Regions from separate parts of the Homo sapiens genome. Here regions 2 and 3 are each linked to region 1. Evidence: fine-mapped expression QTL. A gene starts in region 1. Each other region holds a variant in brackets. All regions are shown on one strand. Distances are from middle to middle.

Region 1 (5,851 bases):
GTGTCCTGGGCAGGTCACTCTCGCTAGGCCTCTTTCCTCACCTGTCGGAGAAGGTGGAGCTGCTGGAGATGATTAAAGGACTGGGCCCTTCCAGTGCTAACCTGCTAGGGTGGCTGGGCTTCTCACTGGCCATGAGTGCATGTCTCTGCTTCTGGGACTCAATGTCTTCACAAAATGAGGGGCTGGGCCAGATGACAATAACACCAGCTAGCACATGCTGAGCTCTTACTCCAAGCAAAGGGCAACCATGAGGGCTCCGTATGTCCCGGCCCATTTAATCCCACAACAACTCCATGGTGCGACTGTTGCTATGCTGGCTTTATAGGAGAGGATACTGGCACAGTGAGGTTGGGTCACTTGTCTGAGGTCACTCAGCTAATATGAGCCCAGGCAGAGCCCATGCTTGCAACTACTGCACAATACCCTCTTGTGGCTCCAATGCTTTGAGATACAGAAGGGGGTCTGAGCATCCTCTGAACCCCACTGTTTTGTGGGCTGAGGCAAACATGCCTTCTCAGACACAACCCCAGCCCCACCTTGGAACACATGGGAGTTGCCCAGCCCAGAGACAATGCTGCCCAGTATCCTACACAACCGGGCCTTTATCGATCCCCGTGACTTGCCTGTACCTGGTCATCACACACTCCAGCTAGAAGCCCATTTTACAGACAGGGAAAAGGATAGAGGACCTGCCCAGATCACACAGCCAGTAACTGGCAGAGTGAGGACTGGAGCCCAGATCTACTTGGCTCTACCAAGTGCTGCTGTCTTCCTGACAATGACCCTTGGCCTCTGCCCTCCAGGAACTTTGGCCTTGCAGGGGAAACCTTGGCCCCACCAGCAACTCTGAGAGACGCAGCCTGAGAAGGGCCATAGGTGAGGGGTGGATGCTGAGCAAGGGAGCTTTGGGATGCTGCAGCACAGGGAGGAAGGAAGAGTCCTTCAGACGGCCACAGATCAGCACGGGCATGGTTTCAGGTGGGGAGAGTAGAGCCCCTGAAGTGACTTTTGAAGGGCTGGTGAAGCTGCTGCTCCCAGTACAGGGCATGGAATAAGGTTAGGGGAGATGGGGGAGTCAGATGGGGTGCAGTCTTAGAACACTCTTCTATGGGTGGCGGGTCTCAGCTGCATATGTGAAAGTCTTCTTTGGTTGGATAGGAGGCTCCTGAGGGGGCTGGGGCTACTCTTAAGGGAGAAGCATCTGGGTGGCCTGGGACAGAGGCAGGGAGGTTGGGGAGAAGCTAGAGAAGTCCAGGTGACTGAGAGTGAGGTGAGGCAGAGACTCCTCTTAGTGGAAATAAAGGAAAATCATGAGTCTTTTCAGGGGGAATTTCAGGCAGCTAGCTAGCTTTGAGAAGTAAATGAGCACCTTGACAAGCAAGAAGGTAATTGAAGCTTCAAACAAGGGCCACCCAAATAAGTTAGAGCCACAAGATGTCTGGTTCCCTATAGAAACTAAAGATAACATCTTGACCTATGTCCCTGAATTGTTTTTCACAGCTGTCACTTAGGCCTCAGATAAGGGGAAACTGAGGGCTGTTCTTTAAATTTCTTCCCAAGGGTTCTGTAAAGAGTCACACCCATAAGCCAATGCTTAACTCTCCTATCTGTGGACCCCAGGTTTTTAGACAGTCTTGCTTCCTAAGCCAATTGCAAATCACAGAATCTCTGAATCCACCTATGACCCTGCCTCAAAATGTCTCACCTTTTTGGGCCAAGCCAATGTATAGCTCCAGAGTATTTATTTATGACTTTGCCTATAACCTCTGTCTCCCCACCTTTAAAAAGCCTTACATGTAAACCATTGGGGAGTACGGGTCTTAAGCATTAGCCGACCTATTCTCCTTGCTTGGCACCCTGCAATAAATGCCTCCCTTTCTGCCGCTGCAAATCCTGGTGTCAGTGTTTGGCTTTGCTGCACTGGGTGGGCGGACCCAAGTTTGTTTCGGTAACACAAGAGGTTGACGAAATCATTAACTGAGACTTCGAAACAAATTGGAGGCGGAGAATGAACGGGCCTGAGACGCTCCACCAGCGAGTGGGCCGATGGGCTCATCAGATCAGATGGGCGTCTGTCCTGCTGCCTCAGGGCGGGGGGTGGTGGCACCCCTGAGCTCCTACTGTAGGCAAGAACTAGTCACTCCTAAACCTTCTCTATCGGATTCCCCAAGCGGCCTGGGGTGGGTAGAGATTATAGTCCCCGTTTTACAGATCAGGAAATGCAGGCTCCGTGCCATCCCAGGGCATTCCGGTAGCCAGTCACGGACAGAGAGTCAAACATGAGCCCGAGCCCGGGAGCCCATGGCAGCACGGGATTAAGTCCTCAACACGGGCCGGGGTCAGTTTTCCCATCTGACAGAGGCCCTCTGCTGCTCACAGGGGCCTGGGCTCCCACTTCTCCATCCGAACACTTGGGATGGATGTGAAGGTGGAGCCCGGAAAGGGAGGGGCGCCGCCCACCAAGTCCTGGTTCTGGCAGGCACCCTGGCCCTTGCGGGTCCTCGGTACTACACGCCGGCCCCAAGTCAGCCGCGGCCCCGGCCCGCCCTGTGGGGGCTGAACCCCAGCCCCGGCCCGATCCCTCACGGTGCAGCCAGCCCTTGGGAGGCTGCCCATGGGGATGCGCACCAACCGCAGACAGATAGGCTGGGAAGGAGAGAGAACGAGGGCCCGACCGAGCCGGTAGAGGCGGTGGGTGCCGCTAGGGGCCCCAAGTCCGCGTTCAACACAGGGGCTGGAATGAGACCGCTCCTCTGAGCGGCCGCCCACCGCACCAGTGCGCATGGGCGCACCCGGCCACCGGGCCGCCCACCCCGCCCCACGGGAGACCACGCCTCCGGCTCGCAACGGGCAAATGGGCGGAGGCCGCGGGCGGGGCGGGGCGGAGCCGGGCCCAGCTGGCCGAACCCGGGGAATGCGAGCGCCAGCCCCCGCCGCAGGCCAGTCCCAGCTGGATCTCCGGCCAGAGCCCGAGGCTGCTGCGCCGGGCGGCTGCAGCCTCCGCTCCAGCGCCCGCGCCGTGCCCTGCATCCCGGGAGCCCGGCTGGACCCGCGGCGGCTCGGCCGGTAGGAGGCGGGCGGAGGGAGGCGTGTGCTTCTGTGTGTGTGTGTGTGTGTGTTTCGGGGGGGTGTGTGCGGGTGCAGCGCGGGCCAGTGATTGCTCCGGGACCACGAATCAGTGGAGGGGGCTGCACCTCCCGCGGGCCCGGGGGGAAAGGAAGTGAGCGCTGGCTGGGGGGCGGGGTCCTGGAGCATCCGCCTGGGCCCCCTCGGCTCGTCCCCACCCCCACCCCCGGCGAGGAGTCTTTTTTTCACCTCCCTCTGGGTGTCTCCGAGTCGTTTTCCTAGTGCGGACGCGCTGGAAGCGCCTAACACCCGGGGCTAGACTGTCACTTCCTCTCATCTTCCTTACAGTTCCCCCCTTCTCTTCCCTGCTTAACCCCCCTTTCATCCCTGCAATCCACCAACCCCTTCTGGGTGCTCCACCACCCAGGCCTGGGGAAGGGGCAGGGCCGAGGCTCCTACTGCCCCAGCCTATCCGCTTCTTGGCACTACTCCCCAGGTTGAAAGGGGGCTTTTCTCCTTGACTGCAGGGCGGGCGCACGTGTGTGTGTGTGTGTGTGTGTGTGTGTGTGTGTGTGTTGCGGGAGTGTGGGGGAGTGGTCTGGGAGGGAATGGATCTTTGTTTCTCAGACCTCAGAGTTCCCACCTCTGTTCCTTTGCGTTGGGGGTCTCGGAAGACTGGCCTAGGGGACCAGAGGCGAAATAGGACAAAAGATCATTAACAGGTGCGACGTTCTCTCTCCCAGTCATTTCATGTGGTGGGATTCACCCCCAAGTTCCATACAGATCAGAAGAGTGGGGCACAGAGAAGCGAAGTCAGCTGCCCTCTCAGGATTGCTGAGCCAGAATTTGAACCCGGGTCCGCCTGGCTCTCATCCCAGAATCTTCTCCCTACACCTGTGGTTTAGAGAGAAAAGTACTGAGGGCGACTATCCCAGGACTCAGGGGAAAGAGAGATCTGGGCAGACTTCTTGGAAGAGAGGGGCTTACGGGTGAGGCTCAGCCAACTCAATGAGTCTGAGGCCTGCTGGGGGAACCACTGTGTTTTGCAAGGATTGACACCTCCCAGGGTCCTCGGGCTGGTCCTTGCTCCTGTCCCCAGGGTCTGGGGGTGGGGTGGTGTGGCTGCCTTTGCCTCCTGGGCAGGGTATGGTGGGCCCAGCTGCTGCTGCAGGCCAGGTCAGGCTAGTTGCCAGCACACAGAGGTGCTCAGGCGGGGTCTTTGCCCTGAGGAGCCTCTCTTCTGACAAGACAGGCAGTGGGTCCACAGATAAGGCCCTGTCCAGAGTTGTACCCAGTGCTGGGAGCACAAGACAGGGACTGATGGGTGCCCGGGAGCTGGGGATGAGTTCACTTGCAGATTCGTTGGGGCTGGGTCTTGAAATCCACCAAGCAGAAAAGAAAAGGCAGGTCATTGCAGCCCCAAGGAACAGCATGAGTAAAGGCCTGGCAGTGTGAAAATGAATGCTGGTGGGGTGGATTGCGGATTAGATAGGTCAGATGTGTGTCCAAGAAGGGCCACCTTTGGCTGCAGTAGTGGGTGGGCTTCCACTGAGGGCTATAAGGAGGAGGCCAAAGCAGGGAGAGGGCCCTCCCTTCTGCTCTCCTCTGCTCCCCACCCAGGGCTAGGCTTGGCAGGGGAGGAGGGACCCTGATAAAGTTTCCCAGAGCAGGGGTGCTGGGGGCAGGAGGTGCCCAGGGGCTAAGGGGCTACACAGGGTCCCAGTGCTGGGGGAAGGTAGGTGGGGCTGCCTCTGTGAGATGGGGACCACCATTGGGGGTGGAGCAGGTTGGGAGTAAGTTGACTGTTGGACAGGGTGGTTGTGAGATGCCTGTGGGTTTTTGTGGGTGACATCTGGGACACTGCTCCCAGGCCAGCACTGTCTCTGTCTGCTTCTGCGCCTGCTTTCCTGGCAGGCTGTCAGATCAGCCCTGGAGTCCTGGTCCCCAAACAGGAGGCCTCCTGCGCCCTCAGTGGGCACCCTCTCCTACCTGCAGGGCCTAAATCATGTGTCTGTTCTTTCTCTTGGCTGAGACCATCTCTGTACCTTCCTACTTGCCTATGACCTTGAGGCGGAGAACTTCCCTTTTCTGTCTCAGTTTTCTCATGTGCGGAATGGGGATAAATGCTGCCTATTCACAGGGACTCGGGGGATGATGAAGATGAACTTAGATCATGTCACTGAACGCATCTTTCTAAGTACATGGTGTCTGGTAGCCATTGTTACTAATAGCAGCTGGCAATCAGCATCACTTAGTTCCCTCCCTGGGGATGAGGGGCTGACTTTGGGAGAAGAAGGGTGGAAGGAAACAGTCCTCTCCTATTGAAACGGAAGCCTCTCTTGGCTTTAGTGGGTGAAGGGGACTTACGGGAGTGATCTGTATCTGCCTGACCAAGTCCCCTGGCTTCCCCCAAAAGCTTCTAGCCCTTGAGGAGAGGCAAGGGCTGAGCAGCCGGGAGCACCCTAGAGTACAGCATGTAAAGGTTGAACAGAAAGCCCAGCAGTGGGCCCTGGGCTCCCCCAGCTGCAAAGAGCAGGGTCTGCAACACCCCCCACCCCTCCCCAGCAGCCTCCTGGGCAGCTGGCAGCAGTCTCTCTGCAGCTGGGCTTTTCACCCGTTCTGTCTCTGTCCCCATCTATTCAAGTGTTTTGAGTGCCTTCAGAGCCCCTCCCAGGCACCTCTCAAGTGCCCTCAGAGAACTCTTCTGCCTCTCCATCCCTGGTCCCCGCTCAAAACTTTCCTGGGCTCACCGTGGTCCTGAGGCTTGGCCTTCCTGCTGCCCACC
Region 2 (5,851 bases), 24 kb after region 1:
TGCCACAGAACAGTCAGTTTGCAGCAAGGCCTGGCAGCGGGGGCACACCCAGCCGAACTGCCCAGGAATGACCCCCTTCTGGGCATGTGCTCAGAGATGGGGTTCAGTGGGGTCAGGGAGAGCTTTCAGAGGCCTTGAAGGGTGCGGACTGCCATGGAGGAGAAGGAGGTAGGGCTGGGGGAGGGCAAGTCTTCTGCAGAGGGGATGGGCTGTAGGCTACAACTCCCTTTCCAGTCCCAGATGGAAGTCCCGTGTCCTTCCCAGACCTGTTTCCCACTGTCTAGTTCATTCATTCTGTGATCCTAGATTCCAGGAGGGTGGTGACTAGGGTGAAGCTGGATGGACAAAGAGTGGGGGAGGAGGACGGATGTGGAGGGAGCCTCTGCAGATATAGCCCAGGTGCCATGGATCCAGTCTGCTGCCTTGCCTTGCCTTGTACACCAGGAATAGAAACCTGAATTTCTTGTTGTGCCACGAAGGGAGAAGGGAGGTGGGCTGGGCTGTGGCCTGTCAGGTAGAGTTGGTCTAACAGGCTGGGATGGGCTGAGCAGGGGAGCGGTGACTGCAGGTGCAGAATGCTGTCCTAGAGCTGTGTTGCCTGGAGAAATGGTCAACCCCCAGCCCTCAGGGGTAGCCCCTGTACAGCCCAATCCTGTGCACCACTTTGTCCCCCCTCCCTCCCAGGGACCTGTCTGTAGCCCCAGTGGAACCTGCCAAGCTTTGCTAAGCCTAGAAGTGGGCAAAGTCAGGCCTGGGCCCTGCTTAGGAGCTCACAGGCTGGTGGTGGGGACCCTAAGGAAACCTAGAGAGTGTGGACAGGGATGGAAGGGAGCACAGGTGGCTGGCACCAGATAAAGGGCCCCTGGCACCCGAGGACCATTTCGGAGGCAGTGTCTGCCTCAGGACACTTCGGGTCCCCATTTCCCTCCTGAACCTCCCTGCTTACCAGCACTCTCCATGCCTGCTCTGCCAGCATCACTGCCTCCAGGCAGCCTCCTCTGTTTTCTCTCTGGCTCCTGCTGTCACAGCTCTGCTCACATGGGGGGTCAGGGCCTGGCTCCTTCTCAAGATCCCTGCCTGTGGGCAGAGACCTTCCCTGACTCACTCTATGACCTATGTCCAGCCAGTGGCCCAGGAAAAGTGGAAGGACAAACACTAGGCTTGAGAAGCCTGGCCCCATGGTGGCAGAGGTGAGGGCCTGGGCTTCCCCAAACCCTTGGTCTCATTGCTATCTAGTGAGACACCCCCTAAGCTGGGTTAGGACAGGTGCAGGGAGACAGGTGAAGGAAGGATGGCTTTGTCACCCATAAAACCTAGCCCACCTGAGACCAGCCTGGCCAACATAGTGAAACCCTGTCTCTACTAAAAATAGAAAAATTAGCTGGGTGTTGGTGGCAGGTGCCTGTAGTCCCAGCTACTCTAGAGGCTAAGGCAGGAGAATCGTTTGAACCCAGGAGGCGAAGGTTGCAGTGAGCCAAGATCGCACCATTGCATTCCAGCCTGGGCGACAGGGCAAGACTCCCATCTAAAAAAAACAAACAAAAACAAACAAACAAACAAAAAACCTAGTCTACCTGGAGACTGCAGCCAGACTGCCTGAATTTGAATCTCATTTCACCTCTTCTTGTGTGGCCCTGGGCAAGTGACTTAACCTTTCTGTGCCTTGGTTTCCTCATCCGTAAAAAGGGGATGCCAACAGTGCCCATCTCACAGGGTTGTTTTGCACAGTGCCTGCCACATAGCAGGTGCCCAGTCATTGTGAGATATTTCTATTATTGTTCCTTTACAGGTGCCCCAAGGTGGCCCCTGGATTCCAGAGCAGACTCCAGGTGCCACCAACCTCAGGTGGTTTCTGTTGGTTAGAGCTGGTGACCCTGAGCCTCTCCTGGCAGTGGGAACATGCCTGGCTGCCTTCCGCTCTGTCTGCTCCTTCCCAGGCTGCACGATTGCCCCCAGGTTCCTGCTCTGCCACAGCAAGTCAGGGTGATGGAATCTGGGAATCGTGACTCCCAAGCTCGGTCTGTCTCTCAAGGACTGGAGAAGTGTCTGGGGCCAGAGCCCTGATCTGGGGCCCAGATCTGGTTGGATCTGCACCTCGGGTCTGCCCCAGCTGTGGTGCTTAGTGTTGGGAGACCCTGGTTGGGAGCCCAGCAGACCTAGGGCATCCCATCGGATCCGTCCACTTACTTGCCTTGTCACCTTGGACATCACTGCGCTGTCCTGGGCTCAGCCTCCTCCTCTCTGGGATGGGGCAGTTGTGTGTCTGTCTTAGGACACTGGCTGGGAGGATCTGAAGTGGAGGGACACCTGAGTCACTTCCTGCTGTAAACCCTGGTGATGCCAGGTGGTAGCTGTTTCTCTTTCCATGGCATGATGTGGCTGGGGTCCTCCGTATATGGAAGCCCCTCTCCCTTCCCGGTCTTGCCTGCCCTCCTGGCCTCAGGGAACAGATGCTAAGTCATAGCTCCCTCTGGGTCAGAGGATGGGCTGGATGTGGGGTGTGGTCCAGGGCTGGGAGGGAAGACAGGAGGGCAGCGGGGAGGAGAGGGAAAGTCCCTTCTTCCTGCCTGTGCTTCCTGACGGGGTGCCGTTGGGGATGGATGAGACCAGGCGGCCTCACTGGGTTTCCTAGACCTGTGCTCTGCAGAAGCCGCCGTGCAGGTTGGCCGTGGTGCACCCTGTAGTGCCAACTGGAAGGAGGGGCCAGGTCTCAGGAGCTGCTCATGCCCTTGGGGGAATTCTAGCCCTTTCTCTGACCCTCTAAAACTCTGGTTCTTCCGGGCAGAGGGGACAGCAGGGTCCCCATCTTGGTGGGAACTAGGAGCCCTCTTCCCCATTCTCCCTTGCAACTGCTCTGCTCCACGATCTGTAGAGTCCCTACACAGCCCTGCTGGGATGACCATTTATCTCCTCTGCACAGGTGAGGCCCAAAGTTGCACAGCAGGGAGCAGACATTCAAATTCGGTCTTCCTGCCTCTGCCACCCTCTGCTGGCCGCCTGTGGTAGGACCGCAGAAGCTCTTGGGATGGAACTAGCTCAGGAGC[G/C]CCTGCTGGAGTGGAGGCAGGCAGAGGGCTGCTGCCATCTGCCCATGCTGTGTGGCGGGGACATGGTATTACACCTCCCTGGGCCTCAGTTTCCTTATCTGTAAAAGGGGATATTGCCCACTTCTCAGTGCCTTGGTGAGGATGGATTGTGGTGTCAGCAGGATGCCTGGTACATGAAAGGCATGTCTCAGTGTTTGCCTGTCCCCACCCTCCACCATACCCACAGCCACTGGGGAGCAGTGGCTTCCTCAGCTCAGTGAGGCGATGGGAGAGGAAGAGGGGCCTGCTCTGTTCCCTGGGCCAGGGCTAGGGATCAGGCCAGGCCCCACCCCCAGCTCAGGCCTTGGGGAGGGATGATTACAGCTGAGGGAACACAGGGTGAGCTGACCCTTCCTGGTTGCATCTCTTGGTGCTGGAGCCACCCATAGAGGTCTGGGCATAGCTTCCTAGCACCTGAAAATTGAAGGAGACTTTCATTCGCTTTGGGTCAGGCCCTGGGCTTGATACTTTACATACACTGATTCCTCCTCGCAAAGTAGAAATTATTGGCCATGCACATTGGCTCAAGCCTGTCATCCCAGCACTTTGGGAGGCTGAGGCGGGAAGATTGCTTGAGCTCAGGAGTTTGAGACCAGCCTGGGCAACATAGTGAGACCTCATCTCTACAAAAAATTTAAGAGTTAGCTGAGTGTGGTGTGTGGGCCTACGGTCCCAGCTATTCGTGAGGCTTAGGCCAGAGGATCGCTTGAGCCTAGGAGGTTGAGGCTGCAGTGAGCTGTGATTGTGACTGCACTCCAGTTTGGGTGACAGACGAGACCATGCCTCAAAAAGACAAAAACAAAAACAAAAAACCCCAAAATCCAACAACATAAAGAAATTGTTGTTTCTATTATATAAATCAGAAAGCCGAGGCTCAGAGAGCTCGCCAGATTGCCGATTGAGGAGCTGGAATTCAGTCTCCAGTCTGAAGCCAAAGCCCATGCTTTTCCCTTTCACAGCACTGCCTCAGGGGGCTTTTAAGGAAAATACCCCCACAGCAAGAAGAGGTGGAAAGCCCAGGCCAGAGCTCCTTGGGCAGGGTCAGGTGCAGAGGGCACCTGGTACTGGAGCCCCCCTGGGCTGCCTCTCTCTTGGCAGGCAGAGCAAGGGGCTTCCAGAAATTAGGAAGGGCTGAGCCTGAGAGCAGCCAGTTGCTCATGGATCATTCCCGGGTCAGCGGCTGCCCTGGCCGGATTCCCTGGCTGCGTCTCATGGAGCAGCCTCTTGGGCCGTGCCCACCAGTCTCTGTAGAAAATAAAAATGGAGGCTGGGCGCAGTGGCTTATGCCTGTAATTCCAGCACTTTGGGAGGCCGAGGCCAGCAGATCAGGAGTTTGAGACCAGCCTGGCCAACATGGAGAAACCCTGTCTCTACTAAAAATATAAAAATTAGCTGGGCGTGGTGGTGGGTGCCTGTAATCCCAGCTACTCAGGAAGGTGAGGCAGGAGAATTGCTTGAACCCAGGAGCTGGAGGTTGCAGTGAGCTGAGGTTGCACTACTGCATTCCATGCACTCCAGCCTGGGCAAAAGAGCGAGACTGTCTCTAAAGAAAAAAAGAAAGAAAAAAGGAAAAAAAGGAGTTTTTGCTCCACTTGAGCATTTGCTTGCTGTGTGCCTTTGACAAGTCACAGTCCATCTCTGAACCTCCATTCCTCGCCCATACAATGGAATGACAACTCCTCGCTCCTTGGGTGGCGTGAAGACCTGATGAGATTATGCGAGGCAAGTGCCATGCGGGGCCTGGCCCACCGCTCCCCACTGGCCCCTCGCTTTGTGCTCCCCAGCTGGGATATGGGTGTTTGTCCCATGCCCGCACCCCCACCCCACTTGAACCTGCTGTACCCCTGTGGGCTGGCGGGGGTGGGCACTCAGGCTGCTGGTGCTAGAGAAGGAAGGGAATGGAGCTCTTGCTGGTTAGGGAGGGGCGCAGCGGGTAGGAGGAAGGCAGTGCCCCGGGTCCAGCGCTCTGACGTCTTCCCACAGGTTCTTCATCAGCAAACCTTTAGCGGAAGAGCACTCTCTGGCCAGGAAGGGGAGAGGGCATCCCAGGCAGGACCGCGGGGTGGGGGGCAAGCGGGGAGCAGATGGGCCCTATGGGGCCCCAAGTCTGTGGTGGGAGGCAGGTGAATCACCATGCTGATGATCACACAGCAAGTCTGTGTCTGTCACGTCTGTGTCTGTCATGTCTCCTGCCATGGGGGGCATCCGCATGCTCCTCCGCCCCTCACGCTCTCTCCTCGCCTTCTCCGCAGGGCATCTGCGAGGACCCCCGCCTCTTTGTGGATGGCATCAGCTCCCACGACCTGCACCAGGGCCAGGTGGGCAACTGCTGGTTTGTGGCAGCCTGCTCGTCACTTGCCTCCCGGGAGTCGCTGTGGCAAAAGGTGAGGCCTCGGGCAGAGTGGGCAGGGTGCTGGGGAGTGTGAACGCAGCCTGTGGCCCTCACTGCCAGACAGGCGGAACCTGATTGTGGCAGATGAGACTTTCAAAAGCCTGTGCCAGGGATGGGGTGGGGGCCCCCAGTACTGGCCGAGCGTCGGAATTGCCATCCCTCACCCTTCAGCTGGGCACCCCCAGGGGCAGGTGCTGGGAATCCGTCAGGCTCCCAAGGTCATTCTGATGTGTCCCCCCCAACACTGTTGGGGACACTTGGCAGATTAATACACACCTGTGAAATGTGGAAGCTGTGTGCATCACATTTAGTGTGCAGACACCACTGATGGGGCTCAGGAGACCCCTGACAGACACAGACCTGCTGTGTGACTCAG
Region 3 (5,851 bases), 45 kb after region 1:
CTGTAAATATTTCCGGATGCATCTCTGAAAGATAAGGGCTCAAAAAAAAAAAACCATAATACCAACTTATAAAATAATCTCTTAATATCATCAAATATCCAGTAATTGTTCTAATTTCTAATTTGTGCTATAAATATGCATAGGTTTTACGGTTTGTTTGAATGAGATCCAAACAGAAGTCCATAATTGCAATTGGTTGATTGCTCTTTCATCTTTTATTTTTTCCTAGTAAATTATCTATCAAAGAAATGGGGCCGTTTGTCCTGTAGGGTTTCCCATGGTGTGGGTTTTGTTGACTGTGTCTTTTTGGTGGTGTTTGACATGTTCTCTGTCCCCTGCGTTTCTGTAACCTGGGACTTAGCTCCAGAAGCTCATACGGTTTAGGAACAATTTTTTTCTTTCTTTGTCACAGCTGCATCATGGAAGATGTTGTGTACTTCATTCGGGGGCACATCATGGCTAGTTATCTTTCTTTTTTGTGATGTTAGAAACCATCAGTGACCACTGCCTAAATTCATTCATTCTTCAGTGATTGTAAAATGCTGGTGGTCTAATATCATCAGTCCTTTCTCATTTATGAGCAGGAAGTCTCTTCCAGTTCAAGACTTCCCTCCATCTACTATTTGGTTACCATCTGGTACAGTTTGTCTACAGAGACAGGATAAATTTCCTGTAATTTTCCAGTTTAAAAAAAAAATGAGTTGATTCCCTACCCACCTCCGATAGTGACTAATTGTTTTTGTAAGTATCATTCTGATCTCATGAATTGGAACATATTTGATGTGTTTTAATCCATTGCTGTTTTTGCCCTTATTGATGCTCAAATTAGCCCATCTTTGGCCATCAGGAACCTCTTCAGGTTGGTTCCTGAATCCTTTGACATGGCCCCGGGAGTCTGTGCTGGCTTCCTTGGTTTCCGGCGTGGCGTGGGAGGGTTTTTGGTGTGCGAGCGCATCTATTTAGACAGTCTCCCTCCTGCTCAGCATCCTGGCTGACAGCAGAGCAGCTGAGGGGTGAGAAGGCTGGCTTGGGGCCCACCCCGTGCCAGGTGCAGGGGCGGTGAAGCAGGAGGGGAAATGGAGGCCCTTGGGGATCCCAGACTCTGGGTCTCCAGGCCCTGGAGCCTCATTAGCAGCTTCTTGAGCCACAGAGGGCTCAGAGCCAAGCCTCGAGTTTGACTAATGATCCTCCCGAGGTCCTAGCAGCCTGTGAGGGCTGCCCTTCCTCCCAGCCATGGAGTCCAGAGCATTCAGAACAGGGCAGGAGCAGAAGGAGGGGGTGAAGGTGATGGGCCAGGCCTGTGTTCTCAGCTTAGGACTCCCTGTCACTCTGTGCGCTTGGGCAGATCTTGTTTCTTTCTGGACCTCAGTCTTCCCATTTGTGCAGTGGGAATGGTAACCCTCACCTTGTATGGAACCGCTCTTTTTTTTTTTTTTGAGACAGAGTCTTGCTCTGTTGCCCAGCTCACTGCAACCTCCGCCTCCCAGGTTCAAGCGATTCTCATGAGTCAGCCTCCTGAATGGCTAGGATTACAGGCACGCACCACCACGCCCAGCTAATTTTTGTATTCTTTTTTAGTAGAGACAGAGTTTTACCATGTTGGCCAGGCTGGTATCGAACTGGCCTCAAGTGATCCACCTGCCTTGGCCTCCCATGAGACGTGTTTTTGATACAGCTGTCTGTCCTGAAAGCAAAGTGGGGAGAGAGTGCCAGGAGTCAGGGCATTTTTACTTAGAAAGGGCACAGAGTTGACAGAAAAGTGGGGGTGAGGAGGTGGGGGAAAGGAACAGCCAGTGTTGAGCCCTTGCTGGGTTCCAGACAGTGAGGTTGGGAAGTCCTGGGTTTGAACCCTGCCTCCCTCGCTTGAGCCTGTGGGCAGCCTTCTGCCAGCACCTTCCGGTAGTATTGCCTCAAAAGCCTGTCCTGAGGCTCAGGGGTGCTAGTGTGAGCAGCCTGGCCCTGTGCCTGGCACCCAACAGGGCTCCATTAGGGCAGTAGTACCTCTCGCTGCAGTTAGCATTTTCATTTTCTTGGTCTCACATGTCCCATTAGGGAGCATTTCCCTTTGCCAACATCCCTTTTGATGGTAAGAGTTTTGTTTGTTGATGCAAACAAAAGTGTCCTTAATGAGCATGCAGTGGGGAGCAGCTTTTGGCTGAAGTCTGTACACTCAGGTGAGTGCCGGCCTCCTGGTGTGCCTCTGGTTCCTCCGCCTGGGTGCCCCCCATACCTGGAGTGGTTTTCTTCTAGAAAGAGCTGCTTATGGTCCTGATGGGGCTCAGCTCCACTTGGTCCCGTGCCCAGCAGGGCCAGGGGTCATTCACCCTGACTTGACAGGGTGAGGGGTTTTCCCTTCTCTGCCCAGATTGTGGCTATTGTCCTCATCTGCTTGGGGGACGCCTGTAGCAGCACTGCGGATGCTGCTGAGTAGGGTCTGGCACTCCCTTCTGGTATAGCCCCGCCTGCACCCTGTGTAGCCTCAGCACTTTGCCTGGGTGCCTCCTCCTCTCCCCAGACTGGGAGCCTTTTGAGGGAAGGGACCATGTGATTCACCTGGTTGTCAGTGTCCAGCTTGGGGCTGGTTGCAGAGTGGTCCACAGTGCCAAGGAGCTCATTTTTCAGAGGCAGACAGATCTGGGTTTGAATCCTGGCTTCAAACCAAGGTTGGTCTGCCTCCAAAGCATGTGTGTATTTTCTAGCTGGGTGACCCTGGACGAGTTACGTGCCCTCTCTGGGCCACAGTATTGTCATCTGTGAAGTAGGGCTGGATAATAGTCATCTACTCAGAGGTTATTGTGATAATTAAATGGAGATAAGTCATGGTAGTCACAGGCATTTCCCAGATGCGTCATAAGTAATAAAATCAATGTCTCAGTGTCCCCAGTCAATGTCTTTGAATTCATTCATTCAGTCAATGCATGTTTACTAAACATACTCTCTGGGTCAGGCCCTGGGCTAGGTGCTGGGTGCATAGCAGTGACTGAGACCTATATGGCCCTGCCCCCAGAGAACTGACATTCCCAGTGTAACATCAGAGCTCAAAGTCACAGAGTTACTTAATTATAACTTGGTAAAGGTAAGTATCTCAGATGAGAGCTGCCAAGGGCCATGAGACTGAGATAGGGGTCCTGGCCTAATCTGAATAGTCAGGGAGGCTTC[C/T]TGGAGAAAGAGGATGGACACTAAAGGACAAATGGAAGTCTACTGAGTAATGAGGAGAAGGAAGAACCTGGAGCAGGGAGCAGGGGTGGGGGCTGCTGTGGGGGAGGCAGAGAAATGAGGCTGGGGGAGTGCATTGAGAGTTTGTGTCTTATTTTCTAGGGAAGTGACAGGACTGGGTTGGTCTATGTGGGGCGAGAGTAGATGTAGCTGCAGACACTGCTACAGTTGTCCCTGGGCGAGGAGATGGGGGATTGGGCCAGGGTGGTGCCAGTAGGATGGAGAGGAGGAGATGGATTTCAGGAGAATGGAGGCGCTCAGATTGGGCTGACTGGATGGAGGGAGGGAAAGCAAAGCAGCCAGTGGGGCTGCCAGCCTTGGGGTGGGCTGGATGGGTGGATGGTGGCGCTGGTCACTAGGCAGGAGCTGGTGGTAGATGTGGACGGAAGTCTCGGGGAAGGTTGCAGGGAGGCATGAGAAAGAGGAAAGCTCACACACTCTGAGAACAACAGCTGGAAGGAGGCCGAGGGAGCCTCCAAGCCTCGCGGAGATGGGAACCTGAGCCTGGAGATGGGGAGGATTCATCCGGGTCTCACGAAGGCTTGTGGCAGAGTTGGAATCCGAACCCAGTATTCCTTTACATTCCGATTCGCTGGAAGCACACGCCCCCATTTCCTCAGGAAGCCGGACATCCCCTCACTGTGTTCCCCCATCCTATCCCCCCTCCCCCTACCCAGGTCATCCCAGACTGGAAGGAGCAGGAATGGGACCCCGAAAAGCCCAACGCCTACGCGGGCATCTTCCACTTCCACTTCTGGCGCTTCGGGGAATGGGTGGACGTGGTCATCGATGACCGGCTGCCCACAGTCAACAACCAGCTCATCTACTGCCACTCCAACTCCCGCAATGAGTTTTGGTGCGCCCTAGTGGAGAAGGCCTATGCCAAGTAGGTGCCAGCAGCAGGCAGGTGGGTGGGAGGCCCAGACGGGGGTGGCACCGGATGGGCTCCTCGTGGTATTCCGTTAGCCAGGGCTTTAGGCACAGAGAAGTGAGGGGCTGGTGCAGGCACGCAGCAGGCTCAACCGCCAGGCCTGAGGGCATAGTCAGCTGAGCCTGTGCTGGGTGGGGTGGAGGCCTGGGCCCTGTAAGGAGAGGAATGTTGGTTACTCCCATTTTAGGGGGAGAAGACTGAGGCCCAGGCAACATCCTGTAGGTAGCTGGGGGCAGAGGCAGCACTCACATTTAGGACCATTCTCGAAGGTTCATGCTGCCATGCCCTGCCTGGGGCCTTGGTTGGGGAAGTGGTAACTGAGCTGGGGCCTGGTTGTGCAGGGTGGGCCACGTGCCTGCCTTCCCCGCCTGCTGGGCCTCCCTCTTGTCCACCATCCGCCTCTGCCTGGCTGACTGTCCATTCTGTCTTTGCTGACCCCTCCTTCTGCTCCGTGCCTTCTGCTTCTGTGTCCCCAGTGCCCAACACAGAGCCCAGCATAGAATGGGCACAAGCAAAGTTTTGCTGAGCTGTGGGGAACCCTGGGGAAGAGTGACTCGCGCAGGCCGTTGCAGGGCAGGGATACGCCTAGGCCAGGAGGGAGGAGGGAGGAGGGGCAGTGGGGTCAGAGGCCAGCCTCGCCAGCTCTAGGTGAGCCACTCTCTGGTTCCTCCTGCTAGGCCCATTTGTCAATCTTGCTGAAAAAATGTGTGTGTAGGGGCAGGAGCAAGGAGAGAGAGAGATAGAAAACAAGAGAAAGGGGGAGAGAGGAAAAGGAAAGACAAAAACTCCCAACATCAAAAACCCAAGAAAACACATTGGCAGGTTCCACTTTCAATCCTAAGAAAGGAAAGCCAGCCCCCTGGTGGCCACTGAGTCTCCACCACCTGGATGCAGGTCGACCCAGTGGCCTTGGTTGTTTTTTGTTTTTTGAAAAAACACAGTTTCATTGTGGTAAAATAGACAAAACATAATGCTTCTCATTTTAACCATATGGAAACATACAATTCAGTGGCATTCATTATGATCACAGTGCTATGGGCCATCACCACTATCTATCCCCAGAACCTTCTCATCATTCCCAGCAGGAGGTCTATACCCATCCGACAGTAACTCCTTCCCCTCCCCCTGACCATTGTTGGCACTTTGGAAAAGAGTTGCTTTTTTTTTTTTGGACAGCTGATTTTTTAAGATTGAGCCACTAAGGCTTAGGGGAATTTAAGCCTTATATGTTGGCCCGAGTGTTAAGAACTGGGTTCCAGTGTTGGCTCCGCCGTGGCCTGCTGCGTGACTGTAACAGGTTGTTTGACCCCTCTGAGTTTCAAAAACCTCCCCTATGAGGTAAAGGATGCAGCCTGGCTGGGGAGCATGAGCTGGGAAGTCTTTCCACATTGCTTCCCAGACTGGCAGGCTGTTACCAGGCCCTGGATGGAGGCAACACAGCAGACGCACTGGTGGACTTCACGGGTGGTGTTTCTGAGCCCATCGACCTGACCGAGGGTGACTTTGCCAACGATGAGACTAAGAGGAACCAGCTCTTTGAGCGCATGTTAAAGGTGCACAGCCGGGGCGGCCTCATCAGTGCCTCCATCAAGGTGAGAACACGGCAGTCCCCAGAGGCGACCCCTCCCCTTCACCCTCGCTGACTGAGATGGGAGACAACTGTGACATCCCACGCTCAGGTCAGCTCCTACGTATTCAGACCCT

Direction of the effects. Alleles are on the strand shown, and positions count from the first base shown. SD is a standard deviation of normalised expression in the study named. Not every link is listed here.
For the expression in cerebellum of the gene that starts at base 2,943 in region 1, C is the low allele of the variant in region 2 and G is the other (small effect, 0.36 SD a copy in GTEx).

Evidence for each region. PIP is the estimated chance that this variant, and not a neighbour inherited with it, causes the effect. A credible set is the group of variants that fine-mapping cannot tell apart.
Region 2: its variant is the best candidate, but not a certain one, in a credible set for the expression of CAPN5 in cerebellum (GTEx, PIP 0.58).
Region 3: its variant is the best candidate, but not a certain one, in a credible set for the expression of CAPN5 in whole blood (TOPMed, PIP 0.87).

Annotation. Positions count from the first base shown.
Region 1 is chr11:77,064,029-77,069,879 of GRCh38, forward strand. It overlaps CAPN5 (calpain 5), which reads left to right and starts at 2,943. Exons shown (of 13, transcript NM_004055.5): 1 at 2,943-3,066. RefSeq lists an enhancer at 2,102-2,602 and a silencer at 2,459-3,148.
Region 2 is chr11:77,088,347-77,094,197 of GRCh38, forward strand. CAPN5 (calpain 5) reads left to right here. Exons shown (of 13, transcript NM_004055.5): 3 at 5,336-5,467. Among named protein-coding and RNA genes, the nearest start is that of OMP, 12 kb to the right of the region's middle. The variant G/C (reference allele first, on the strand shown) is at 3,045.
Region 3 is chr11:77,108,696-77,114,546 of GRCh38, forward strand. CAPN5 (calpain 5) reads left to right here. Exons shown (of 13, transcript NM_004055.5): 4 at 3,894-4,102; 5 at 5,547-5,739. Among named protein-coding and RNA genes, the nearest start is that of OMP, 8.8 kb to the left of the region's middle. RefSeq lists enhancers at 4,429-5,023, 5,024-5,619, 5,620-5,851. The variant C/T (reference allele first, on the strand shown) is at 3,160.